Homo sapiens: one gene and its partners. The protein of the gene in region 3 interacts with the protein of the main gene of each other region in a pairwise test. Each region holds a gene or a part of one and is shown on either strand. Other genes may lie near its edges.

Region 1 (6,888 bases), on a different chromosome or scaffold from region 3:
GTACACACTACCATGCCCAGCTAATTTTTGTATTTCTTGTACAGACAGGGTTTCACCATGTTGCCCAGGCTGATCTTGAACTCCTGGGGTCAAGTGATCTGCCTGCCTCAGCCTCCCAAAGTGCTGGAATTACAGGCGTGAGCCATCTTGCCTAGCTGATTTTTCTTTTTTTTTCTTTTTTTTTTTTTTTGATGGAGTCTTGCTCTGTCGCTCAGGCTGGAGTGCAGTTGCATGATCATAGTTCATTGCAGCCTCAACCTCCTGGGCTCAAGTGATCCTCCCACCTCAGCCTCCTGAGTAGCTGGAACCACAGACATACACCACCACACGTAGCTAATTTATTTTTATTTTTAATTTTTTTTGTAGAGACAGGGTGTCACTATGTTGACCAGGCTGGTCTTGAACTCCTGGCCTCAAGCGATCCTCCTGCCTCAGCCTCTCAAAGTGCTGGGATGACAGACATGAGCCACCAAACCCAGTGAGTTTGATTTTTTTTTTTTTTTGAGACAAGGTCTTGCTCTGTTGCCCAGGCTGAAGTGCAGTGGCATGATCATGGCTGACTGCTGCCTTGACCTCCTGGGCTCAGGCAATCCTCCTGCCTCAGCCTCCTGAATAGCTGGGACTACAGGTATGCACCACCACACCCAGCTAATTTTTAAATTATTTGTAGAGACAGGGGTTTCCCTAGGTTGCCCAGGCTGGTCTTGAACTCCTGGGCTCAAACAATCCTCCTGCCTCAGCCTCCAAAGGGCTGAGATTACAGGCACAGGCCACTATGTCCAGCTTGAGTTTGATTTTTTTTAAAGAGAAAATCAACAATCCCTTAATGAGCCTGATTTTAAGACTTAATGTGTCAAAATATGCAGTTCTTAAGACAAAGGGGGAATAGGTGTAAAAGAGGTCCTTGGTGTTCACAGCCTAAACCTGGACTCAGGGTTGGCTGCTATCAGGGTTGAGGGGTCCCTACCGCTGGACACCTTAGATGGCCTGAGAACCAAGCCCACATCAGTGCTATGGTCTAGCCATTCTCCCTCAAAGGGACCCAGCCTCCCTCCAGCCAGCCTGAGGCCCACTGGCATGCAGGGACCTCTGAGAACGACTGACTCCCAGGGATTCCTTGGCTCCTTACCTTCCAGCATTCTCCTGCAACCAAGCCCAGGGCACATGGGACTGTCCCTGAGCCAAGGACCCAGGCATGCTGTGAGCCAGGGGAAGGGGAGTAAAGAGACTGGTGGCTTTTACCCTCCATCTGAGGGTGGAGGGGCTGGGAAGGGACAGGAGGTCTGTGGGAGGTCACTCCAGAGGCTGGGAAGGGACAGGAGGGATTCTGTTGTTCTCAAGTGACCTATTTGACTTCCCCCTCCTGAGGAGTCAGCACACAGGCTGAAAGATGCAGTGAGACACAAGTTTATTGGTGGAGCTGCAGCGGAGTCCTCCCTCTTTCAGGGATAGCCAAGGGCACAGCACCAACAGAGGGATGGAGAGATAGACCCCCAAACAGACACATGGATGGAGCAGACTCATAGAAACCATAGCACAGCCACATAGGCACAGAGACACACAGGCCACAGCACCAAGAACACACACACACACACACACACACACACACACACACACACAGACAAAACCACAGGGCTAAGACACACGGACAAAGTGCGGGCTTTGGGGCCCCTGCATAGACAGAGCGAGGGCCATGTGGGGAGGGGGCCCCTACTGACCTCCCCCAGGCATAGGCACACCAACAGCACATAGACAGGCAGATGCCCCCAGCCAGCCAGCCTGCCACACAGACAAATGGACTGCAGGGAAAGGATGTTCGTGGCTCCACATGAACCATGGGGAGATGGCACCACAGGCCTTCAACACACCCTGCCACACTGAGGCCTGGGAGTCCCCGCCCCTGAACTAGTCACATCTATTCCCCTGACTCCCACCCCACTCCCCGCCACACTTTGGTCTTGCCCACTGGGGCTGGGGCTGGGGCTGAGGCTGGGGAAACTGGCAGGTGGTAGGAGGGAGAGAGGAAGGGGTATGGACCTGGCTCGGTCCCGTCTCTGTGATCAGGGCAGCAGATGCTGAGAGTCTGGGGCTGAGCCTCGGCCTGGCAGTGGGGTGAGGGCAGGGCCATGGCTCAGGCTTGGGGGGGTTCCTGGCAGCGCAGGCACTGGGCCATCTCCGGCTGATACTGCTCGACCTGCAGGGTGCAGCTGGAGAATCCAAACCGGGAGTAGAGCCGGGATGAGGCTTCAGCCAGGACGGCTTCAGGGTCAGCGGTGGAGTCTGTGGGAGAGTGATAAGAGGCGGCATCCATCCCGGGGGAGAAAGAACAGGCAGGGACTGAGATAAGGACAGGGAAAGGGGCTGCACAGCATTAAAGCCAGGCGTGAATGGAAGCCTGCTTTTCTTTCTGTATTGTATGAACAGCATAAAAGTGTCAAATCAAATGTTGGAGAGACTCACCCCAATCAACCATGCTAACACACTAAACTCTTTCCAGTCTCCTATTCTCTCCTGTCATTAAGTGTCAACATACAGCTCAACATTTCAGCAGCCATACCACCCGATTTCCCAGGACAATCCAGTTGTTAAATATCTGTCTCATTGTCCCTCTAGAGTTTCCATCAAATATCCCACAAATTATAATATTTTTGGCATACAAATTGCATGACTCTGATTGCTTCTTGCATCTGGAAGAAACTCAAAAATCCTTTGTCAGCTCATGACTCACCATATATATTTTTAATAGTTGAATCATAATGTAGATGCAATTTTATATTCAGCTTTTTTCTCAGCATTATACCATAAACATTTTTCATAGTTGCTGTACAGTCTTCACAAGCATCATTTTTAACAGTTATGTGATACCTCAGGGTGGAGGTGCTGTAATTTACCTAACTGTGCCCCATCACTAGACCTGTAGGTACTAATGATCTTTTAAAGGGTTGTTGGTTCCCTGTGCTACTTCAAAGAGGGTGAAACTGCCCCCAGAACACTGCATCCAGTGGATGGAGACTCCTTGTCTCCAACATGCACGAGCGCACGTGCATGTGTGTGTGTGTGTATGTGTCTATGTGAGAGAGAGAGACACAGAGAAACAGAGACAGATCAAAAAAGACTGAAACAATTCCAGTAACTCAAGCTATGGTCCCATGTTTGGGGTGGGGTATGTTCCAGGTAGTAACTAGCTGGGGCCAGTGTGACTCACCGATGGCCAGGTGTGCAGAGGCAACATGGTAAGTGAGCGTAAGGGCCCACAGGTGCAGCTCATGGGTTGCCCGGACTCCTGGCACCGACAACAGCGTATCCCGCACAGGTTCGAACCCCACATTGCGGGGGGTACCTGCAACCAGCACCAGTCATGCCTTACTGCTAGGGCTACTCCTGCCCAGAAGCAGCACCCCCACCACTGGATTCCACCTCCCCTATCCTGTATGCACTCTCCTTTTGACCCCTACAATTCACCCTATGCCCAAATCCTTGTTCCAGCAGCAGACCCCATGAGCCAAGCCTTCTTCCCGTACTATCTTCAAAGAAAAAAGTGATGGCCCACTGCGAGAGTAAAGTCAGAGAGGGCCACAGGGATGGGGAGCTGTGGTGCCCGACTCACCTTCCATGAGGATTCGAAGAACGTCTCGGAGGGTGGGAGCGGTGGATCCAAGGGCACAGATGGAGAAGAGGAAGGTGCTGATGGGGTCGGCTGCCTTGTATTGAGGCTGCAGAGAAAGAGACCCCTAAGCCCAACAACCAGGGACCTTTCAGAGGAAGATCTAGGGGTATCTTGAACAAACATGACCTGAGAGGCCCCTCAAAACCCTGAAGAGGGGACAGGGAACATGACTCATGTCTGGGAGAGTCCTGGGAGGTGGGAGGGAGGAGCTGGAGGGAGGAGGAAGGAAGCTTTGGGACCTGGGAAGGAGTGGGCTGGGATGTGGTTGTGGGGAGGAAGGCTGGGGCAGGTCTCCAATGATGGTACCTTGAAGTAGATGAGGATGGAGGCAGCCAGTACCCCAAAGCTCTGCAGGAGGTCCCCCAGCACGTGCACAAATGCCGCCCGGACGCTGGTGTTCCCCAGGGGCAGGGGCTCTTCAGGCCCCTCCTCCAGCGGTGCATACTCTGCTCCCCTAGACCCGTGGCTGTGGGGGGGCCCAGCCTGGTGCAGCACAAAGGCCATTCTGAGGGGTAAGCAGAGCACCTCAGCCTAGGGCCCTGCTCCTGGCCTCCTATACCCCCATCTCCATGTCTCACCTCCCCAGTAGCCCTTTCCCAGCCCCTGGAAGAAAACAGCATTTTGCAAGAGAGATAAACAATGCAGCCTGGGGGAAAGAATACCAGACTTGGTGCCACACATGTGGATTCGGAAGCTGGCCCTGTTACTTAAATAGATATGTGACTTGGGCAAGTCACCTGTTGGGATTGACTGCATTAATGGTAAACTAGGGGTAATGCTACCTACCTCATGGGGTGGCTGTGAGGTTTAAATGCAATCATGTTGATGAAAGCCCTCATCAGAGTGGCTGGCCCATGGCAGGCCCTTGACAGAGATCTGCTGACTGAATTTTAGGTCTCTATCCCAGACCCTTCTCAGGCACACGCAGGGCAGCCCATGGAGAGCTGTGTGTGCGTGTCTGTGTGTCTGGTGGGGAGGAGAGAGCCAGCTCTCCCATCCTGGAGGAAGACCCCTCGCCCTGGGCCCCACAAGGTGCCTGCTCCATACTGGGACGTACAACAGGTTGGCACAGACTGCGATGCTGGCGGTCAGCAGCATGGCACCCCCCTCGATGTGGTAGTCGCTGTGCAGCAGGCGGACGAAGGCCAGGTACAGGAGGATGCCAGTGACCATCCAGAGGGAGACCACAGAGGCCAAAGCCCCCAGAGTCTCTGCGGGTGGGGGGGGAGACAAGCTGTCAGAGACCTGCTTGGGACCCTGACGGGTGCCCTCTGGCAAGATTGGAGAGTCACTGGGCCATGCAGGGGCCTTACCTGAACGGTGCCAGCCAAAGGTCATGGTGCGGGTGGCTGGACGGGTGGAGAGCCAGAGGGAGAAGAGGCTGCCCATCATGCTGCCCACATCCGCCAGCAAGTGGGCTGCATCGGTCATGATGGCCAGGCTGTGTGCCAGATACCCGCCTGCCAGGGTGAAATGATGGAGTCTGCTTCCATTTAGAAAATATCATGTAGTGTGTATAGGCATGGAAAATAAATTGGGGGATATACACCAAAAATGTGATTTGGGGTTTTCTCAGGTGATGGGACTACAGGTATAATTAACTACTGTTATGTTATTTTTTTCATTCATCTGTATTTTATTTTCTACAATGATTTATTTTAATAACAAGAAAATAGGGTTTTTAAAAGAAGTCAGCCCTGACCTACTGGCCCCGGACCTCGGCTGGAATTCCCTTTGTTGCTGTCCCTTATCCCTCCTACTTCCTGAGTCCTGGGCACCCAGCTCCCCTATCCCAGCCATCCCCATCTCTGCATCTGCACCCAGGAACATTCCTGGGACTCTGGGTGGAGAGTGGCTTGGGCAGGTATTTGGAGAATGGGGTTTAAGGGCTGCTCCCCAACTTACCGACCACCTCCCCAGCCATGAAGACAAAGCAAACGGCACAGGCAGCATATAGCTGCCTCCGTGCATGCAGCCTCTCAGGGGTAAGGCCCGGCGGCGGAAGGGGGTCCCTGTGGCAGTGGTGGAAGGGCATCTCCACAGGTTTGGACTCCTCAGGGAGGGGCTCTGAGGGCTCTGTGAAGAGACTGAGGCAAGCAACATGGTTCAACCTGGGCCTGGCCCACAGGCTGGCCTGCTCACTCCACGTCCTTAGTCCCCAGTGCTGGCCTCATCAGACCATCTCCTTCCCCAGGCCTGGTCGTATCTGGGAGCTGCATCGGCAGAGGGCCACATGAGAGACCGGGGCTAAATGAACAGGTCAGAGCCCAGCCTCCCTTTTCCTTCCATACACAGAGCCATAGAATTTCACAGCTGGAAAGCACCTTACAGACGGTCTAGTCTAACTTTTTTAAGAGATGGGGTTGGCCGGGAGTGGTGGCTCACACCTGTAATCCCAGCACTTTGGGAGGCCAAGGCAGGCAGATCACAAGGTCAGGAGATCGAGACCATCCTGGCCAACATGGTGAAACCCCATCTCTACTAAAAATGCAAAAATTAGCTGGGTGTGGTGGCACGTGCCTGTAATCCCAGCTACTTGGGAGGCTGAGGCAGGATAATCACTTGAACCAGGGAGTTGGAGGTTGCAGTGAGCCGAGATCGTGCCACTGCACTCCAGCCTGGCAACAGAGTGAGAGACTGTCTCAAAAAAAAAAAAAAGAGATGGGGTCTTGCTCTGTTGCCCAGGCTGGAGTGCAGTGGTGTGATCAGAGCTCACTGCACACTTGAGTTCCTGGCCTCAAGCGATCCTCCTACCTCAGCCTACTGAGTTGCTGGGATTATAGGTGTGAGCCACCGCACCCGGCTCTCATCTAACATTTTATTAAATAAATTAGAGGCATGAGGCTCACAGAGTTGGGGGACACATGGAGGCCAACCCAGTTAGTTGCTAGAGCTGAGACTAGACCCCAACCAATTTCTTATGCTAGGCACCCCAAAATGAGCAGGATTCCTACTGATCTCTGAGAGCTTTTGGTGAACAGGGCAAGCATGTACCTACACAATGATATAGAGCGAAGGTGGCCACTGTCATTAGGGCAGTTAGAGTGCTATCAGGGTTCTGAGGATGGAGGGCCAGACTAATTATAACGAGGAAATCAGGGAAACAGCTGTAAGAGGTAACATGAGAAGGGCCTTGAAGGATGGGAAGGATTTTGATAAAGACAGGTGAATGCTATGCCAGGCACGCCAAGGCAGTATGAAGGGAAGGTGGAGTGAAGTGT
Region 2 (7,024 bases), on a different chromosome or scaffold from region 3:
CGGACCCTTTCAGCATTTTAAATGTGCCATTACATTGTATTCCTGCTCCCATGAATTCTGATAAAATGTCAGTGGTCATCTTCTCTCCTTGCTCTTTTTTCTCTCTCTGGCTGATTTTAAGGTCTTGTCTTTGCCTTTGTTTTTTAGTAATTTGACTTTAATGTGTCTTAGTGTAGTTTTCTTTGTGTTTATACTGCTCAGGCCTCCTCGTGCTTTGTGGATCTCTAGGTTGATATTTTTCATCAAATTTGGAAAAGTTGTAACTATTATTTCTTCAAAAAAAAAAAAAAAAAAGAAAAGAAAAACTGTAAAACAGAAAACCCAAAACAAAAAACTGCCCCAATTTCTTTCTTCTTTTGTTCATTTTTAAATCACTCTTTTCTCTCATGCTTCAGTTTGTATAGTTTCTACAGACCTGGCTTCAAGTTCACTGAACTTTGCTTCTGCAATATCCAATCTGTTATTAAATCCCTCCAATAATTTTTTTTTCTTAAGACATCACAGTTTTCGGATCTAGAATCTCCATGTGGATTCTTCTTCATAGTCTCCAGGTATTTTCTGAGATTCCTCATCTGTTTTAAACTCCCTGTGTGTGAATCTCAGTATCTCTCCCGTCTTTTGATCTGTGTCTATTGATCTGTTTTCCCTTAGGTATGTGTCACTTTCCAGTTTCTTGCCCATCTGGTAATATTTATTATATATTTATTATTTATTTTATTACATTATTATTGATTTATTTCTGATAATATTTACTTATGGTACATGCTAAGTTGTTACAGTAAAGATTCTGTTGTATTCCTTTAAAAATTGTTGAGTTTTGTTCTGTTAGGCGGTTTATTTACTGGAGGATCAATTTTATCCTTTCAAGGTTTGTCTGGGCCTTGTTATGGCAGTTCTAGAGTAGCCCTCCCTCTAGGGATAGAGTAGCTCTACTCCTAAGCTGTGGCCTTGGCAGGGTCAGCTGAGTGCCTGGGATGTCCAGCACCATCTCTGAACTCTGCTTGGTTGGAACTTCAATGTCTTTCAGCACTGGGAACTGTCCGGAATTTCCATTTATCTTCCAGCCTTCTAAGAGTTATTTGCAACTGGAGCTTGCAGAGTTTTGGCCCGTACAACATTCAGCTTGATATCTGGACAACGACTCACGGAAACTGCTTCATGGATTTCTGAAGCATCCTCCCTGAGCGGCTTCCTCCTCTTCCATACCCTGCCCCACAAACTGCAGCCATGTCAGTAACCTGAACTGTAATTTCTGTTTCCTCCACCCAGGCTGCTGTTCTCTGGGCTTTACCTCCTTTTGTTGCTGTTTGGAAAGTGTCTCCAGGGAAACTACTGGGGTGAATTCAAAGCTCATTTTCTTGGTTTCTCTTCCTTCAAGGATCACAGTCCTGTACTGTTTGGGTTCAGAGCCAAAAAAACAGTTGCCTTTATTCTTTTTCTAGTTTTACAGTTCTTTATGGCAGAAGGGTAAGTCTGAGACCCATGATTCTGGCCAGAACCAAAGATTCGCATTTTCATTCATTCTGTTACTGTGTTAGTGGCTTTTGAGGTCCTTTGTGATCTGGACTCTTGTCTAGCTCTCCAGCTTTATTACAAGACTTGTGCTACCTGCATACCTGCCCCCACCATGCATATGTACATAACTCAAGCTGGTACATGTATTTTATGTTACAAACAATGAGCTATTTTCATTTCTCCAAAGATGCTGGTGCTTCCCCCTTCTCTGGGCTTCCTTCATGCTGTATTCTCTACCTGTAACACTTGCCTCACCCCTACCATCTCTCAGCTTCTACATGTTTTTCCAAATCAGCTGAAATATCACTTCCTCTGGTACTTCTGTCATGTTCGCATAGCAGCCTGAACTTTCCCCCATCAAATATTTTATCAAATTTCATGATCTCTTTTTCTTTAATAGGAACTGCATTTGCCTGCTTGACTCTAAGTTCTATGAAGGCAGTGTGGGGGATCATCCTGCTTGATTATCACAAACATTAGTCACCTGCTATTGTACCACTTATGGAAATGTCAATTTCAAATTTAGGCTAGTAAAATTACTGGATAAACCTGCTCTTATGATACCCAGAGGGAATTTGCTTGAAATTCTACTCTATTAAGCTGCACAAACCTTGCTTATATTGCTTGGGGTGTCCTGAAATGCCTTCTAACTATATGGCCTTCAAGGCTGATTTTCTCATTTCTGTCCTTTAACTCCTCCTCCTTACCATTCCCTGTTGCTTTTACCATCTATATGTATTTTGGGTGCTAGGTAATTATTAAAGCCATCATAAACCTCGTATCTCAAAGAAATATATTTTGTTATATTCTCATGAAGACATCCCCTGAAAAAACAGAACCAGATTTGAAACTTTTAAACCTTTTATAGGTGTTTTTGTGACCAGGAAAAAAACTATCACAGAATTATGTTCTTACAGCCAGGCGTGATGGCTTACGCATATAATCTCAGCACTTTGGGAGGCCGAGGCAGGTGGATCACCTGAGCTCAGGAGTTCAAGAACAGACTAGCCAACTTGGTGAAACCCCATCTCTACTAAAAATACAAAAAATTAGCCAAGGGTTGCAGCCCGCATCTGTAATCTCAGCTACTTAGGAGGCTGAGGTGGGAGAATCACTTGAACTCAGGAGGCGGAGGTTGCAGTGAGCCAAGATCGCTCTACTGCACTCCAGCTGGGCAACAGAGCAAGACTTTGTCTCAAAAAAAAGAAAAAAAAAAAAAGGTTCTTACAATGTGCCTATGAGATTAGGAGTGAAATCCTAAGTACAGTTCTTCTGAACAATGTAGGCTCAGAAGGGTTCAAACGAAACACCTTGGGACCTCCTTAGTTAATATAGTGCCTAGAGCCTAAGATACTGCAATATATAAGCTAAAGGGCTGGTAACCAGGTGGATGGAACCATGAAGTCGTAATAATATATTTTCATTTCAAAAAGACAGACACACACAGACTTCTCAACAGTAATTCAATTTGAAAGGGAATTCAAATATATACATGCAACTGCCTATTACAGGTAATGTTACACTTTACCCACGAAAATCCCCAAAAGATATTTTCAAGCAAAGTAAAAGAAAAAAAAAAGTGCTTGCCTTAGAAAACAGAACAAACAAACAAAAAAAGTGCTTGACTTACGACTTAAAAGCAAGGGAAAGGAAAAGTAAGAGTAAAGGGATTTGAAAAATACCTCTCTGAACCTATTCTGGTTCTGATTCAGGAAAGTACCATAAAGACAGAAACATACCTGAATTTATAGCTTTCCCAAACTGTACACGGTACCTAGTGCAAGCTTACGAGTTGCTGGCACACTTCATTATTTTTATTATTTTTTTGAGACAGGGTCTCGCTCTGTTCCTCAGGCTGTAGGGCATGAACACAGCTCACCACAGCCTCAACCTCCTGGGCTCAAGCAATCCTCCTGCCTCAGCCTCCCATGTAGCTGGGACCACAGGCACATGCCACCATGCCAAGCTAAACACTTCATTATTTATAAGTTCTTTTTCTTTTGAGCCTCTATTTAATGGACATAACTTTATAAAGAAAAGCTACATATCATATCCATAATCATGTTAAGTTCCAGCAGCTTAAAAGAAAATAACTAAAATTCTGAAGCCATGTCTTACCATTGATGTCACCACCAAGGCTGGAGAGAATCCCATTGTGAGATAGAAAAAGAGTTCAACCACCTTATATCTGCAGGAACAAAAATGCAGTTAATTTAACTTATAAATTTCTATAACACCTAACAATTTACATACCAGCCTTTCCTTTTTACTTTTGAGAAAGAAATGTAAACTCTTAACTATTCAAATAAAACTTTATTTCTCAGTAGGCAACCACTAGGCCTCTAACTAAAACACAGTAGCTGAGTAACAAGGAACTAGCATTTCTCTCAGGGTTGAAAAGGCATCAAATCCCACATGCCACCTAGAAAATGTTTTCTGCCGGCCGGGCACGGTGGCTCATGCCTGTAATCCCAGCACTTTGGGAAGCCGAGGCGGGCGGATCACGAGGTCAGGAGATCGAGACCATCCTGATTAACACGGTGAAACCCGTCCCTACTAAAAATACAAAAAATTAGCTGGGCGTGGCGAGCGCCTGTAGTCCCAGCTACTCGGGGAGATGAGGCAGGAGAATGGCGTGAACCCGAATGGCGTGAACCCGGGAGGCGGGGCTTGCAGTGAGCCGAGATCGCACCACTGCACTCCATCCAGTCTGGGTGACAGAGCGAGACTCAGTCTCAAAAAAAAAAAAAAAAAGAAAAGAAAAAAAAAAGAAAATGTTTTCTGCCAAAAGTAGTTATCGTTTAACCCACTCCACCTTGTAAAATATTTCCTCTTCTGATCCTAGAGTGTCTGCTTTCATTACCATTCCAATCCAGAGCTAGAAGTGAAATTCTGAAGATGAATGGAGATGCAGCCTGGAGCCTAGTTTATCAGCAAAAAGGAACAGCAAGCCCTAAGGAAAGGACGTGTAATTTTGTTTGTCTCTTTATTTTGCACCTGCACAAACTGTAATTTTAAGGCTCATCACGTTAGACTACAAAAGATCTAAAAACCCTAAGAAATACATTGTATTGAAATTCAAATTACATTTCAGCCTAATCAAACCAGACGATAAGCTCCTCAAAGGCAGGAACCAAGATTAATTATGTTTTGATCTGTAAATCCTAGAACAGTACCTGATACAATTTAGGTACTCCCTAATGTCTGCCAAACTGAATGGCCAAGGGTGACTCATACCTCATTCATCGTGTTTTATACTCAAAGCCTACCATGAAATAATCAGATAGGGGAAGAATGGGTTTATGGGTTTTGTTTACACCAGAAGGCCGGGAAAAGGAGAAAAGATAGTTGCCTTTCTTGACTTCCTATTTTATCCAAGGATATAAATAAGAGATTTGAGTCCAAGAAGCAAACCATTCCCTTGGACTTAAATATGCTATAATATATAACACTACTCAGCATTGCTAATTATGGTCAAAAAGGTATTTAAGTGAATTTCAGAGACAAAAAGAAGTTAGTGAAAACTACCATTTTCTTCTTCTGAAAGGGGAAAACAATTTAGTATTTTCTGATAAACACAAATTATGTTCAATTCTGAGAGCCATTCTGCCAAGCACAATAGATACAGAATTTAATGAACTGTAAATAAACCCAATGACAAAGATTTCCTGGTTGTGTGTTTCTCAAATTCAAACATACAGGGTAATAAAAAGAGCAATGGAATCAGAACTTGGATGTTTGGGTCCTAATTTCCAGATGAGTCACTAATTTGATGCATATCCTAAATGTTCTGACTTTTTAATCATGAAGTTGGAATAGGGGACCTTGAAGGTCTCCTCTAGAGCAAAGATACTAAATTTCAATTAGCTTTTGTTTTTATATGGCTCAATAATTAGGACTATCAGCTATGAATAACTGGCTAAAAAGCTGTGCCCTAGGGATAGGATATTAAGAGTTCCAATGTCCTTCCCAACATCCTTTTTCTCAAGATACCCTTTTTGGAATACCCTCTAGGCCCTTATTTAGGTATATTGTACTGAGCACTTAATATCTATTCTCTCCAATCTTCATAGACACCTTGACAAGTGGCTGGTTTTCTCACGTGATGACTGAATCACAGAGAATAAGGCCAATTTGCCTCATGCTATAGAAATGAAGTCTGATGGACTCCAAAGGGGCTGGTTACCATGTCCCCTCAACTACATTATACCAAACCTGTACCACTCTTGTTTTTCCACAGCAATCTTTCCACTAATAATGAATACCAAATGGTTTTGAAGATTTATTAAAAATAACATATTCTATATATGTATTTCTACTGTTTTGAAGTACAAATAAAAGTAAATTGTATTGCAGTGCAGATAATATTTAGGCAGTCAATTTTAAAACTATCAAATGTAAATTATTTTCTCTTACTTTTCATGGTAGAGAAATACATAAATGGTTCCTCCAGCTGCCATGAGCCAGATAAACCAACGCATATGAGATGCCAGGGGTCCAAGTTCACGAAGATTTAACCTAAAAATGTAAACGTGACAACAAAGAACAGAAGTGATAAATGAAGGGAATTCATAGAACCTGTGTCATTGAAAACTGAGAAAGTCTTAGGATAAGAGCAGGAAGAAAACACACTCAACACATCAAGCAGGCATTTGGGCAATTTAGGTAAAATTAAGCAACTCAAAAACAAATTTGTCAGTCGACCTTTAAGACTCAGAATTAGGCCGGGAGTGGTGGCTCACATCTGTAATCCCAGCACTTTGGGAGGCCGAGGCAGACGGATCACTTGAGGTCAGGAGTTCAAGATCAGCCTGGCCAACATGGTGAAACCCCATCTCTACTAAAAATACAAAAATTAGCCAGGTGTGGTGGCATGTGCCTGTAATCCAAGTTGCTCGGGAGGCTGAGGCAGGAGAATTGCTTGAGCCCGGGAGGCAGAGGTTGCAGTGAGCTGAGATTGCACCACTGCACTCCAGTCTGGGCGACAGAGCAAGACTCCACCTAAAAAAAAAAAAGAATTAGTTTCAACATGGTTTAAAAATAGAACCAGCTAAAAGCAGACAAGTTGAAGGGAGTCCCAGCACTCTTATGACGCCTAACTTACCCTATTAGGCAGAATGAGGTCAAAACTGCTTGCCCTTTAATTTCTGACCATGTATTTGGGAGCAGATTACTTACAAACCTTAATGAGAAGAACCTGGAACAAAATTTTGACGCAGGATCAGATACCCACAGTGGATACCTAATACACAAACCAAGTGTGTCTCCATTATCAGTCTCTCTGCCAAGAGAGAGTATGAGAAGAATTATTCCTAACATGTATTATGGAAGACATTTTGGTAGAATTTAACCATGGACTGTTGTGAGGTTTGAATTTTAAAATGCTGCAAATTCATTTGTACTAATTTCATATTAAGAATACATGAGAAGTTCAGGAACAGTGGCTCACACCTGTAATCCCAGAACTTTGGGAGGCCAAGGCAGGCAGATCACTTCAGGTCAGGAGTTC
Region 3 (7,461 bases):
ATTCTTTGTTAAATAGTGAGAGTATATTTTGTATACTGCTTCCAACAATCTCTGTATTTAAAAAATACAATCTTGATATATATATATACACAAATATATATATATTTCTTTAATCAGAAATCAAGAGCTGGTAGTATAACAACATTTCACAATGATAAAATGGGAACTAATCTGCTATTATATAATGGTTAAAAGCATTAAGAGTAAAATCTGTTTCAGACAGACCTGTTTTCAACTCCAAACATCGTAATTTATCACCTGTGTAACACTAAGTGTTGCCATTTAACATCTCTAAACCTCAATTCCTTCACCTGTAAAGTGAGGGTAATAATAGTTATCAACCTTATTGGGTTGTTTTTATATAATCTATGTACACACAGTAAATGCTAACTATTACTATTATCAACAAAATTACCTCATGGTTTTGTTAAAAATCTGGAAATAATTACTTTAAAATGTGTGCAATTCCTTTATCTCCTTAATCTCTTTTAACAACAACCACACTATGCAAAAAGTTTGCCAATTTGTTCTATACGGAGTTATTATAATTTCAGGTTCAAATTCAAGTCAAAATTTCAGGTACAAATTTTGGATCAAATTATATTAATTAGAAAATTGAACTCACATCTGAACCAGAAGCTTTCATCATTGCATTCTGCGAAGACTCTCCTTTCTTCCTCTGTTGGAATGTAATCAGGCCCTATGTCTTTTTACCAGGGAAAATCAGAAAACATTAAATTATCCATAATAAAACTAGGTCTGAAAAATTATCTTAGCCTAAACATTAACAAGAGGCACCCATTTTTTAAACTCAAATAATAAAACAACTGGCTTATGCACTTTTTTTGTTTTTTGAGACAGTGTTTCACTCTTGTTGCCCAGGCTGGAGTGCAATGGCGCGATCTCGGCTCACTGCAACCTCCACCTCCCGGGGTTCAAGCGATTCTCCTGCCTCAGCCTTCCGAGTAGCTGGGATTACAGGCACCCATCACCACGCCAGGCTAATTTTTTGTATTTTAGTAGATACGGGGTTTCACCATGTTAGCCAGGCTAGTCTCGAACTCCTGACCTCAGGTGTTCCACCCATCTCAGCCTCCCAAAGTGCTGGGATTACAGGCATGAGCCACCGAGCCAGGCCACTTATACACTTTCAACAAACTTTGACTTCAAATAGAATTAATGCTACTATCTGCTAGTCAGGACTGGCTACCTAATGTGCTGGGCCCAGTGCAAAATAAAAACGTGGGACTCCTTATCCAAATGATTATGAATTTCAAGATAACAAGACTAGAACATGAAACCAAGTATGGGGCGCTGTCTGCACATGCCCATGAAGCCAGCCCACCTGCCACTGTTACTCAAGGCAGTGAAAATTCCTTTACATAGGAAGTGCTTCTAATTATAAATACTTAATAGATAGTTACGGGGAATTGGTCTTGGAACCTCTGCATTCGGCTCTCGAAAATCAGCCCTCCCATTCATCTTTCCTGTATCAAAAACATTACATATTAAGTATTAGAAACTATCACTAGATAGGTCAAAGTAAATCAAGACGTATGATATAGTAAAACTACTAGTCTACACAGCAATCAATCAACAAATATTTATTAAACACTACTATATCTTACGTACTCCACATGTAAATAGCTAGATGAAAAAGTAACAGACCTACTGATTAATTTGGAACTCACTATTCAGGTTAAGTCCCTTAATTGAAAAAGCATATGCGTTTTATAAGTTTATAATTTTTTTTACTATCAAGATATCAATAAAATAACAGACATATTTTTTCCTCCTGGAAGTGGGTTCTTTCACATCCTATGTTTTGGTCGTTTCTCGAATCTATGCCCAATGATTAGGATAATTCCCCAAAATAGAAGAGAAAAAAAATTTCAAGTCATTTCTGAGCTTCCATATTAAAAAATGAAATAATCATCAGAAACATTCAACCTCTCCCACAAAGGAGCACTCCAAAATTATGGAATAACAAAGACGACATATCCTTCTCCCTGTGAGGTAAAACTAACAGCAAATTCTGTATCTCCAAATTTCCTTCCACCCCAAGAATATAAGAAAAAAATGCATAAAATTCCAAGAATATACATTTTTTATTTGGTTCTTTTTTTAAAAACTCATATATTGGGACTCAGACCAACAGATCAAGTAACCGTATTTTACAGAACGTTTACGTGGGATCATGATTATTCTCATTTTAAAAACAATTTGCATGGAAACAGGAAATGGCATACACAATGAGGACAGCAACTGAGCCCTTCCATAATTCATTCAGTCAATAAGCCATGAAGGCCTACTACATGCCAACCCCTTAATTAGAGAAAAGAAATAAAAAAGGTCAGCTGAATTCATGGATGGATGGAGCCTGCTGAATAAACTACCTTTACCCTACAACCGTATGAGAAAAAATGAAACCCTCTTATTTCCCATAACGGCATCCTTCCTAGAAACACCAGGAAGACTGTCAGGGCTGACACGGCGCTTAAGACAATACCATTTTAAGTTCTTTACACAAAACAACGCTGGATTAAAGCCTAAGCGGCCTACAACCGCTGATTACCGCACTCCATCCTCCACCCAGTGTCCGTCTCCCACCTGCCGTTACAGACTGAGCAGCAACCCCACACGCATCCGTGACCACGAACTTCCCCAGCTCACACCCCCAGAAGCACTCCGTCGCCTCCCGCAGTCACCGGCACTCAGGAGGCCGAGACCCGAGCGCGATCTGTCCACCCTCACAGGCAGGAAAATGGCGGAAGGTGCGAAAGTCGTGGATGGCCGCAAAGGTGGTGAGGGGATACGCGGAGGGCAACAACGGGGCTGTTTGCGTCACCTCACCCACCTCCCGACGACAGCAGCAGGCGACTGCAAGGAAAACCAAGCGATCAGGGGCAGAAGGCCCGGAGGGTGGACTCGAGAGGGGGCAGGGAGGGAGAAAAGTGCAAGGTACCGCGGGGAGGGGGAGGGGTAGAACAGCCGCAAGAAGTCATCCAGACAGGGGCTCAAAATGACCGCGACCCGGAGGCACTGTATACTTACGGCAGGAAATGACGTCAGACCTCACTGCGGGTCTGAGAGCCAGCAGCCTAGGAATAGACGCATGCGTATACTCGTCCCTTTGCCCTTTCAGGCAGCTGCGGCCACGAGCCGCACTGCGACTGCGCAGGCGACAGCGGCGGACCAAGAACCCTGCCCCGCCCCTTCCCTGGATGGCGGGGAAGGGGGTTGGGAGTAGGCTTGACTTTGGGCTGTTGTGATGCACCTCTCTGGTCTTCTCGTGGCGGCTGGCGGGAACGTTCCGGAACCCTCTGTTGTCCCTCTTTTGAGAGCGACTTTATAAATTATCTCTTTTATGAGATAATTTCATTCTTTGAGCCTGTAGGCTAAGTAGTAGAAAGTAATTTTTAAGCATGCATACCTGGTTATTTGTCACACCCTCTTGATCCAAGTTTCCAACAAGTTCTACAACCTCTGGCAGGGTACCGTGATCTCTCTGAGGCTACGGTTTTTCTCACCTGAAAAGTGGAATTACATATAGGGTTGTTAGAATTAAAACAACACATCACTGTCTATTAATGAGGGGGCTCACGACTTCTACACATCAGACATGGTGCTGCCACACCCAGCCAATCAGCATTTTACTCATTTTCATACATTCCTTCCTGAAGTATTTATTAGTGCCATGTACTGCAAGTTATTAGTGACTAAACAGTGGGCAAATCCAGTCCTACTATTTGTCAACCCCTCAAAGCCTCTCAGGTTTCTCATCTCTTTCTGAGCCCCTTTGCCACTTTATCATTTAACATTTATTCTCCCGAAGACATACTTAAGGGAGACAGTCACGTGAAACGAATCCAACGCTGTGTTTCCTTCCTTGGAGTCTTTTGATAGCTCCAGTCATGCACCGAATATAAGGCCCATCATGGCCTGGTGGTGCCTGTGCCTTTTGAGCGTCACTTTCTTCTATTTCAGGGTTCACTAACAAGAAACAGCCTGGAGGTCTTTGCCCTCAGTGTTCTCTGTGCACTGTTTCCCCAGTACAACTCTACTCCCTGCTTTGTCAATTCTAACGATATTTCAAAATTCTGCTTTTACATCACCACCTTTGTGATGCCTTCCCTGAAATACACCCCAGAGAAGTAATCACTCTTCCTTCTTAGTCCTTAGCTTGTCCATACTGCTGTCACTGCAATGTACTTTTGCACTGAATAGTGATCTTTTTTACTTACGTCTGTCTCTGTTACAGAGCTCCTTTAGGACAGAGATGTTGGCTTGTAAGTCTTTATAGAACCAAATAAATCCCTGAGATAATCAGTATTAGTAACTAATACTCATTTTGTTCCTGGGACAAGCTAATTTACTTCTGGGCCCAGGGCTTGTGCAATTGCTGTTCCCTCTTCTAGACCACTGTTCTTCCAGATGTTCAACGTGGCTTTTTGTCTGAGACTTCAGTTGATGTCACCACATCAGAGAGGCATTCCTTGACCACCCAATTAACATGGCACCCCAGTCACTCTCCATGTTACCTTGCTTATTGTTTTCATAGTATTTGTTATGGTCTAAAACAATGATTTGTTTGTGTATTGTCTCTCTTCACTAAAAAGGTCTATGACAGTAGGAGCCGTATTTGCCTAGCATCAGTGATTGGCACATGATCATATGAAGCCAACAAATATTTCTTAAATGAATTTGTTGAATGCATTTTTATAGGAGAAAAAACAAAAATAAGAAAATTAAAAGACATTCTAGAAGAAACAAAAATAAAAAAATTAGAAGACATTCTAGGTGGTGAGCTTTATGTTAAAGCAAAGTTTTTTGTTGTTTTTTTTTTTAGGACAGGGCCTTGCTCTATTGTCTAGACCGTAGTACAGTGGTGCCATCTCGGCTCACTGCAACCTTCGCCTCCCAGATTCAAGCAATTCTTGTGCCTCAGCCTCCTGAGTAGCTGGGACCACAGGTGTGCACCACCACGCCCAGCTAATTTTTTTATTTGTAGAAGAGACAGAGTTTCACTACTTTACCAGCCTGGTCTCCAATTCCTGGCCTCAAGTGATCTGCCCACTTTGGCCTCCCGAAGTGCTGGGGTTATAGGCATGAGCCACTGCACCAACTTTAAAGCAAAGTCTTTTTCTTTGCTTCCTGACTAGATTGTAAGATTCCAGAATCCAGTTTTATCATATTCTTTATACTTACTGAGCCAGGCCTAACACATAGTGTGTCCTAAATTGGTGGGTTCTTGGTCTCACTGACTTCAAGAATGAAGCTGCGGACCCTCACGGTGAGCGTTACAGTTCTTAAAGATGGTGTGTCCAGACTTTGTTCCTTCTGATGTTCGGACATGCTCGGAGTTTATTCCTTCTGGTGGGTTCGTGGTCTTGCTGGCTTCAGGAGTGAAGCTGCAGACCTTCGCAGTGAGTGTTACAGCTCTTAAGGCGGTGCATCTGGAGTTGTTCATTCCTCCCGTCTGGAGTTGTTAATCCCTCCAGGTGGGTTCATGGTCTCACTGGCCTCAGGAGTGAAGTTGCAGACCTTCACAGTGAGTGTTACAGCTCATAAAGGTGGTGCAGACCCAAAGAGTGAGCAGCAGCAAGATTTATTGCAAAGAGCAAAAGAACAAAGCTTCCACAGTGTGGAAGGGGACCTGAGTGGGTTGCCGCTGCTGGCTCAAGAGGCCTGCTTTTATTCCCTTATCTGGCCCCACACACATCCTGCTGATTGGTCCATTGTACAGAGAGTTGATTGGTCCATTGTACAGAGAGCTGATTGGTCAATTTTGACAGGGTGCTGATTGGTGCATTTACAATCCATGAGCTAGACACAGAGTGCTGATTGGTGCATTTACAATCCTTTAGCTAGACACAAAAGTTCTCCAAGTCCCCACTAGATTAGGTAGACACAGAGCACTGATTGGTGCATTTACAAACCTTGAGCTAGACATAGGGTGCTGATTGGTGCATTTACAAACCTTTCCCTAGACATAAAAGTTCTCCAAGTCCCCACTAGATTAGCCAGACACAGAGCACTGATTGGTGCATTTACAAACCTTTAGGTAGACAAAGAGTGCTGATTGGTGCATTTACAATCCTCTAGTGAGACATAAAAGTTCTCCAAGTCCCCACCAGAGTAGCTAGATACAGAGTGCTGATTGGTGCATCTACAAACCCCGAGCTAGACACAGAGTGCTGATTGGTGCATACACAATCCTCCAGCTAGACATAAAAGTTCTCCAAGTCCCCACCCAACTCTGGAGCCCAGCTGGCTTCACCTAGTGGATCCCATGCCGGGGCTGCAGGTGGAGCTACCCGCCAGTCCCACGCCACGTGCCTGCAATAGCACATGGTAGATTGATAAGTCTATTTTCTGTTGCCCCCTAATTTCTCAGCAATTAATCAATAAATTGAGTTTCTGTTGATAAAAGACTATGAGCTCCTTCTGTGGGAACATATAGGATTCTAAAACATTCAAGTAAACTGTCACTTTGCATTTGTGCTGGCATTTAGAGGTTATTGAGTCTTTTGGTAATTTGGGTAATGCAACAATCAAAGAATTCAAACATAAATTGGGCAAGATCCAAAGACTTGCGGGAAGTCGATACACATTTGCTAGAGATGGGCTGTAGGATTTATTAGCCAACTCAGACTAATGTGTTCTAATCTGGAATGGTGAGATCACCAGAAATCGATCCACCTGGATTAAATTAAATCAACAGTCTTCATGATACCTCCATTGAGTTAAGATCTAATGAAATGTACCATAAGAAATTTCCACTTATTAGACATCACTTAAAAAAATTAATAATAAAGGGATAATTTATACTCATTAATGTATATAAATGAAATCAATGTAGTGAACTTCTACTTCATTTCAGTGTCAATAAAAGATTTATTTTCAAATGAACGCTTGAACTTCCATAATTGATAATTATTCAGCGATTATTCAAGCAATCATTATTCAATAAATTATTATTCAGCATATTTCTATTTATGTTCCATTAGAGCAGAACTTGTGTTTTATTAGTTCACCAGACTATCTAGTTTAACACATATTTATTATTCAAAATGTAGTGTCATAGAAGCCAAAGGAAAAGAATCTTCTAAGAAGGAAGAAATGGTCAATTATATCAAATGCTGGTAAGGATGGAGAACTATCCATTACATGCAGCAATAAAAAGGTTATTTATAACTTTTGCAAGTGTAGTTTTATTAAAATCTAGATTACAATGGGTTGAGAAAAGAGTGATTGGAGATAATGTGAGGAAAAGTGTACATTACTCTTTCTGGAAGTTTAGCTGTTTAGAGAAAGCAAGATAGAGTGGTAGCTGGAGGAAAAAATAAAAATGGATGAAGGTTATTTTTTGTTTTGGGTTTTTGCTTTTATGATTTTTAATTGACATAATAATTGTACATATTTATGGGGTACAACATGATATTTTGAAATATGTAAGTG
Region 4 (7,024 bases), on a different chromosome or scaffold from region 3:
AAGGTGAATATTGGGGGGCTGCCTGGCACAGTCTGCCATCCAGATGGCGGCCGACTAAGTCCAACAAGGTTGGGAGGAAGAGAGGAGGTGCTCTTATTTAGGGGAGATTTCGGTGGGTGGACTCCCCCGAGGCTGTCGGGAAATTTCCAGGGTCTAGGAAACTGCCCTTTCTCCCCCATCTCCTTGCCACAGCTTCCAGCCTCGCCTTCCAAGAAAACATAGTGAAGCAGGCTCCTCGGTTGTACCCGCCCACTAAGGGACCCTCACTTTGGAAGGGCGTCCCAGTCACCAGCCGACCAAAGGCTCTCCCTCCATAGGTTTCCATCAACCCACCATCTCTGATGGTGACTGAGAAAAGAAAGCAAGGGTTGCAGGACAGGCAGTGTGAAGGCCAAAATCCTGGCCGAGGAGTTAGAAGGCCTCAGCGACTACTGGCCACGTGACTGCTGAGCCTCAGTTTCCCCCACTGTGTTCCCACTGGATGCTCCCTCAAGGCCTCTTCCGGCTCTGAGAAACCTAGGATTCCGATGTCAGGGATTGTGTCTCCCTCCTCACCTTCATGTCCCCAGCAATTAATACACAGTAGACACTTAAAACAGTTCTTTGAATGATTGAATGAAATCGGTCCTCAGGTCAGTCTGAAGATCCGATGGAAGCCAGGAAGGAAACGCTTCCCCCAGGCGCCTACCGTCTGTCAACCATAGAAGCCACACGTCTTGGGAGAACCCTGGCAAGCCTAGAGCCCTTTGCACACCCGCTTCCTCTCCTAGATGCACAGATCTGTTTGGAGGAGCCAGGGGGGAAGCAGGAAAACGTGCCAGGAAGAGAGGGTGGCCTGAACCCCAGGCAACGGCGGGTAGCCCTAACTTTCGCTTTCTTGACTCCTGTGGCCCCTCTCCTTCCCTCTTTCTGGTTTCCCTCCCCTTCCTGCCTCCCTGGCCTGGCCTCCTTGGCTTTCCTGGGACAGTAACCACTTTTCCTTCTCTCCTTTGTTAGGGCTCAGAGCCTCCGATGGTCCCAGAGCTGGCCTGATCCTCTGCTGGTGAGGATGACTCCCAGAGCCTCAGGCTTTCTCTGGGTCAGGGAAAAGAGCAGCGGCAGTGGAGAGATTGAAATTCTGGTCAGTGCCCAGCTTCTGGAGCCCAGCACCTGGGAATGGCTCTCGTTAACACCTGGAGCTCCGGACTGGGGCTTTGAGGAGGAGGGAAAAGGGCTGCGCCCACTCTTTATCCAACCTTCCCTTCCAGGTTTAGGGAAGGGGCTCCTCTTTTGAGGGAATCTGGCAGTGCCTTTCCCTCCACCTTCCTCTGCAGGGTTCCCAGGGAGATGTTAGGGTTTTCCTTCTGGGCTTCCTGAGCCTCCATCTCTTCCCCTCCACACCCCTAGGGAGGTGGCTGGATAAGGAAGGAAACTGCCCTCTCTCTCCCCTGCCTCAGCCCAGCCTGAGACTTATTTAGATGTACTGTGTGTGTGTGTGTGCATGCACAGTGCGCATGTAGGGTGTCAGTGTAGCATTGTAGCTGGTGTGTGGTGGTGCGGTATATATGCGGTGTGTTTGGTGTGTATGTGTGTATAGGTATGATGTATATGTATGTGTGGTGTGAGTGTGAGGGTGTGTTGATTGCGTAGTGTGGTATATGTCTGTATGTGTTTGTGGTGTTGGTGATGTGCAGTGTGTGTGAAGTGGGTGGTGTGAGTAAGGGGCCACTGCAATTGGGTGTAGGAGCCAGATATCTAGGTCTCCTAGCCAGGGATAACCAGTATCTAGGCAACCATACTGGGGGGAGGGGAGGAGATATGGAGGTGAGGAATGGGCAGGAGAAAGAGGGAGGCTGAGAAATGGAGGAGTTTCCATGGCAACGACCAGGCAAGTCACGTGCAAAAGGCTAAGTTGCGGACGTAGACATACACATCCATAATATGAGGGTGGCTGGATCCCCAAAGGGGGCTCCTTTCAGAGAGGGCCTGAGATGCCCACTGATCCATCTTCAAAGCTGGAAATCTTAGCCCAGCCAGACAGCACGAAGCCACAGAGACAAAGGAAGTAGTGGCAGAGAGCACACTGGTGGGGAGAAGCCTCCAGTAGCCACGGTCCCGCGAGCGTGCAGGCTTGCAGCAGGTGACGCGGCAGACCCATGTTTCCAGCGAGGCTGCTCCCAGCTCCCACCCTCGGGTGCCTCCTCTACCAGCCACCACTTGTAAGAGCCAGAAGCCAGCGCTGGGAGCTCCAGGCTGCACACCCAACTCTCCACGGAAGCCCGGGAGACACAATAGGGGAGGCTCTGCCAGGGCCAGCCCTGCTGGGGAAAGGGGGCAATGGCGGACCCCAGGGCCCCCCGGAAAGGAAACAGGATTGGATGGATAAGACAAGAAGGAGGGAAAAAATGATGCACTCTCATGAATCCCCGAGCGCTAGAATCCTTCTTTCCCTGCGCCCCCATCCTGTGCCCACTGCCCAGCCCCACCTTCCCCAAGCACCAAACCAGCAAGTTCCATTTTGTGTCGCTCATAAGTCCACACTCACACCCAGCCACACGCCCTCGTCCGTAATTCCCCACGCTCCACCAAGTGTCCACAGCTTCCAAGTAACAAAGGGAAAACTCCTCATGGATAAAGGGTGGGCGCAGCCCTTTCCCCTTCTCCTGAAAACCCTGACCCCAAGCTCAAGGCAGCACCGAGAGCAATTCCCAGCCACCAGCGTCACCCCCAGCGCCACAGCCTGCCTCCCCTAGAGGCTCCTCTCTCTTCCGACGCCGATCTCCTTGTTTACATCCCCAGCCCGGTTTCCCGCTGCCCAGGCGGGGACCGCGGCGCAGCTGACCGCGGAGGACCGCACACACCCACTGAACACACAAAACCCGGCGCTCCCGGCGCTCCAGAGATCGGTCCCCACCGAGCCTCGCCCCTCCTCGGAAAAAGGAGCCAACTTTGCCCACCTCCCCAGCCGCCTACCTGCACAGCCGGTCCCCTCCGAGACTCCCAGGAGGACCCGCCGAGTCCCGAGGAGCCTGGGAGTGGCGGGGCTGGGGGCAGGGCGGTGGGTGAGGCTTGAGCTGCTTTCCCGCCTCCCCTCCTCCTAGGAGTCGGGCTGGCTGGGAGGCGCGTCCTGCGGGGGCGGGGGGGGGGCTCGCTCGGGGCTGGGCTCGGGGACAGCCCACTCCGTGCTGCCGTCCGCTGGCTTCTGGGTAGCGGCCGCGCGCAGACCCCCTCTCCTCCTCTCCCTGTCCGTCCTCCCGCTCTGTGCTCGCGCGCGTCCTCTGCTCCTCTCTCCTCTCGAGGGGCGGAGAGATTTTTCCAAAGGGCAGTCAAGCTCCGAGAAGCAACAGGAGACTGCCGCCGAGGAGGCGTGCAAGCGCCGGAGCGGATTTGCCATCAGCTGTTGCTTTTCGGTTTCCCTCTGGTTAGGGTGGGAAGGGAGCAAGACAGGCACAATGACAGACCTGGTGTCTCTCTGCAATAGTAAACCCCGAGGAACGGAAAAATAGGAGAAAATAACCCAGCACCAGACACAGCAGCCCACGTTAATTGGGAGCCTTGGTAATTAAGGGGAATGTGCACCAAAAGCATGAATGGCTGTGTCGTGGGCGCAGGAGCCAGCTCCAGTTGTAGTTGTCATTTTCAGCTAGAGCCAGGTGGGGAGCTGGGGGGATGGTCCTTACCTGAACCATAGATCTGCTGCCTTGAACCCCCTTTTCAAGCCCCATCCACCTCTGGCCCTGCCAGGAGCAGTACCACCCCGTCCTCAGCCCAGTCCCCAAGAGTCAAAATTCATGATGACGAACTTTGAATGTGAAGATGTAAATAAATCCTGGCTCGGCAACCCTGCCTGTGACGCGACTTGGAGCATATCTCTGCACTCAGCTCCTGAGTCTATTTCCTCACGTGGGAAAATGGTGATTAGAGACTGACCCCATGGGAGGCTTAGCTCATAGTGAGTGCTCAAGAAATTGGCTCTTACTATTAGGGGCAGAGCTTGTAGGAAGGGGCAGAGGCCAGGCACAAGTGTCAGTAGCCAGGAGCCATGCTGAGATGGAGGCTGTCCAGCCTCAGTCAAGGTGTGTGTATGGCCGAGCCGGGTGGAGGGAGGAGCTACTGAGAAAGGCTGTGATTGTCCAAGCCTAGGTAGGGCCACGGAGAGTTCCTTACAAACCCCAAGCCGGGGATGATGGGTACTGCTAGGAAGAAACCTAGCCCTGCCTCTGCTGCCCTCAGTTCTGGGCCTGTTTTCTCATTTGGGAAAATAGGGAGATGGACTAGATGATCCTGAGGTCTCTTCCAGCTCTGCCCTAGATGATCTAATTATTTTAATAAAAGGTCAGGTCTCAAAACCCCAAGGCAGGAAATATACATGAACTCAAGAAGACTTTGGAACCAGTAGGGGAACCATAAATAGCTACTGAGAAAGAGCACCCAAAAAGCCTCCCCTCAGGGGATAGTTCTGGCCCCTTAATCATGGGACCTGGCTGAATGGATGCCACTCTGGCCCAGTCCTGAACTCCCTGGGGTTCCTGTGAATGCTAAAGCTCCTTCTCCAAAGCCAGACTCAAATCTTGCCTATTTGCGTGCCTAACCCTTTGCCGTTCCTGTCTTTTCCTCTATAAACTGAGGACAGCATTCCAACTGTCGTTTTCCCTTTTCATGTATTCTAGGTGGCAGATTTAAAACCACATCCCTTTCTAGGCCCATGTCCTTAGGCAGGTACATTCATCCCTCCAAATGCCCTTGAATCCTGCCTTTTGGCCATCTCTCTGTGCTTTTTAGAGCACCTACTAGTGATGACACGTCAAGCCCAGGCTTTGCAAGCCTATTTGGGAAAGGATAGTTCAGAACTCCAAAGCCAAGCCACCTTCTGGTTCAACCCCATTTCCAGCCAGAGAGTTCTGAAGTGTTTGGCCCAGTGACTTCCCAGGTCCCCCTACCTAATGCTGACCAGCCCAGGCTGCAGAGGGATAACAGGAACTAAATGTGCATGAGAAACCGCCATGGCTTAACTCTCAAATAGTGCTTCATCACGTTCCATCCAAGGGTACTGCTGGAAGAATTTGGGGTGTTACAGCTACAAAGCAGCACGCAAGCTTGTTCTGGGGTGAGTCACATCTCCCTTCTAGCAGGAAAATAAACACATCTACCCCCTGTGAAAAATGTGGGCATTCATAAAAAGAGGTCGCCAGCTGTTCCATTCTTTCAACCACGTATGGACAGGAGGAGCTACTCTTCACTGAGACCTGGGCCAAGATCTGAGGATATACTGTGGAGAGGAAAGATGTGGTCCCTGGGTGAGATAGAGATTTAGCAAATGTTCCCATGAATAAACGTGTAATTAAAACACAGTTCAGAGCCCTGAAGATATAGCATTTGAGAAAGGTCAGGAGATGTTAAGAAGATGAGGTAAAGGAGCCAAGAATTGGGATGTCAGGGTGGGAAGATGATTCTGCCTCTGGAACAGAAGCAGTATGTGCAAAGGCCCTGAGGCAGAAGGGGCATGGTGTGAAAGGAGCCAGGGTGGGACTGGCCCAACAATTCCTGGTGATTCCAGCTTTTATCCTGGGAAGCACTGATGGGCATCATGAAAACTGTTCTGAGCAAGAATTGGTGAGAGGTTGGGTTGGGATGTTCCTGGTGGACCCTGCAAGTCAGGGTTCAGGGGGCTGTGTGGGGGCAGCACTAACATGAAGCTGAGAAATAAGCCTGATCCCCACTAAAGAATCCTGCTTCTTTACAAGCCCAAAGAACAAAAAAAGATCCAGGGCAGGGCTGCGCAGCCATGGAGAAAGTAGGGTAAGAAAGGGTGGAAACCATTCCTGAAATACTCCCCACCCGCCAGAACTGGAACCATGGGAAGACCTGGAGCTGGAGAGGACAGCATAACTGCTGGGAGCATCAGGGACTGCTCTATGCTTTGAAGCTTGCTCTGGGCTAAGTAACTCACAAATGTGCAGCTAAAATCCCATCTGGAGAGGACTTGCCCTGGTCCCCTTGTATTGCAGCAAAATAGCCCTTCCGCATGTCAGTGCCCTGGTCACACAGCCACGGACAGGTCACAGAGTGACCTCCTGTGTCCTGGTCACACCGGACATGGAGGGCCTAAAGGGGAAGTTAAAGGGGAGAGACCAGGAGTCTTAGAAGAGACCCTCACCCCTCCTAGCAGGCATCCCTTCTAGTGGGGTGCCACTTCATCCTGGGGTGGGGCTGCAGAAGGGAGCCGATCTTGCCCACTGACTGCTACTTTGTGTCCATGCATACCCACTTGGCTTTGCACAGGTGTGAATGTGTGTCCTCCCCACTCAGCCAAATGCCAAACCCCCAACCCCTAGGACAGAATCGTTTCCTAGCTCCTTGGCTGAAACAGCTCTGCTCACTTCCAAACCACTCCTTGATCCTGGGTCCCTTCCTCTCTCTCCAACCTTTCTTTGTCAAACTCCTCCAACTTCTCCCTCAAGCAGCTGTGTTGAGTCCTTGGTCATCTTATGCAGTTGCTAGACAATCTAAATCCACAACCAGGGTTTTACCACCCGCTTAGGCTTGATGAGTCCACAATATCCAGCCCGGTCCTCTCCCCAGGAGACCCAGGCAAGTAATCCCAGGGAGTCAGCACCGCCCACTCCCAATCCATCCTCCCAGTCCACTCCCTATCCATCCTCTCACGGCTTGAAGCCGTTCCCTCTCATGTCTTCTTTGAATTCATGAATGGCACTGCCCCCAATCCAGTTACCCTGCAGAACACATGCCACGCTCAGACCTCTCCCCCAGTGCCTCCTTTCCTGCCCACCACTCCTGTTCTAGGTCAGGTCTCTGGCATCAGATTCTCACTGGTGACTCTGCCACAGTCCCCCTACCTCTAGGTAGAGTTATCTTCCCCAATACAAATGCGATTCAAAACTTCAATGGCTCCGTATTTTCTACGAGTTAAAGTCAAAATTCTTAACACGACATTCAGCCTTTACAACCTGACACCCACCTGCCTCTCCTGCTTCATCTCGTGACCCATTCCCTGCCCTATTTCCCCCCATCACCCTCATCACTC

The links.
Region 1: the proteins of OCIAD1 (region 3) and SLC30A3 interact in binary tests that used the Homo sapiens proteins (3 or more experiments, as listed by UniProt).
Region 2: the proteins of OCIAD1 (region 3) and MMD interact in binary tests that used the Homo sapiens proteins (3 or more experiments, as listed by UniProt).
Region 4: the proteins of OCIAD1 (region 3) and FXYD6 interact in binary tests that used the Homo sapiens proteins (3 or more experiments, as listed by UniProt).

What each region holds. Positions count from the first base shown.
Region 1 is NC_000002.12:27,253,181-27,260,068, forward strand, and holds the end of SLC30A3 (probable proton-coupled zinc antiporter SLC30A3), read right to left. Parts: intron 5,755-6,888; coding exon 5,573-5,754; intron 5,151-5,572; coding exon of another isoform or gene 5,128-5,150; coding exon 4,981-5,127; intron 4,879-4,980; coding exon 4,725-4,878; intron 4,173-4,724; coding exon 3,974-4,172; intron 3,714-3,973; coding exon 3,608-3,713; intron 3,341-3,607; coding exon 3,206-3,340; intron 2,281-3,205; coding exon 2,132-2,280; coding exon of another isoform or gene 1,906-2,131; 3' UTR 504-1,905; downstream 1-503. UniProt on the Homo sapiens protein: Probable proton-coupled zinc ion antiporter mediating the import of zinc from cytoplasm into synaptic vesicles and participating to cellular zinc ion homeostasis in the brain.
Region 2 is NC_000017.11:55,397,836-55,404,859, forward strand, and holds part of MMD (monocyte to macrophage differentiation factor), read right to left. Parts: intron 6,713-7,024; coding exon of another isoform or gene 6,616-6,712; exon of another isoform or gene 6,479-6,615; intron 6,034-6,478; coding exon 5,932-6,033; intron 3,704-5,931; coding exon 3,634-3,703; intron 1-3,633. UniProt on the Homo sapiens protein: Involved in the dynamics of lysosomal membranes associated with microglial activation following brain lesion.
Region 3 is NC_000004.12:48,826,646-48,834,106, reverse strand, and holds the start of OCIAD1 (OCIA domain-containing protein 1), read right to left. Parts: upstream 3,020-7,461; 5' UTR 3,006-3,019; coding exon of another isoform or gene 2,966-3,005; 5' UTR 2,858-2,965; exon of another isoform or gene 2,586-2,857; coding exon of another isoform or gene 2,576-2,585; intron 1,488-2,575; coding exon of another isoform or gene 1,483-1,487; coding exon 1,425-1,482; intron 707-1,424; coding exon 626-706; intron 1-625. UniProt on the Homo sapiens protein: Maintains stem cell potency. Increases STAT3 phosphorylation and controls ERK phosphorylation. May act as a scaffold, increasing STAT3 recruitment onto endosomes. Involved in integrin-mediated cancer cell adhesion and colony formation in ovarian cancer.
Region 4 is NC_000011.10:117,873,640-117,880,663, forward strand, and holds the start of FXYD6 (FXYD domain-containing ion transport regulator 6 precursor), read right to left. Parts: upstream 3,020-7,024; 5' UTR 2,953-3,019; intron 1-2,952. UniProt on the Homo sapiens protein: Associates with and regulates the activity of the sodium/potassium-transporting ATPase (NKA) which catalyzes the hydrolysis of ATP coupled with the exchange of Na(+) and K(+) ions across the plasma membrane.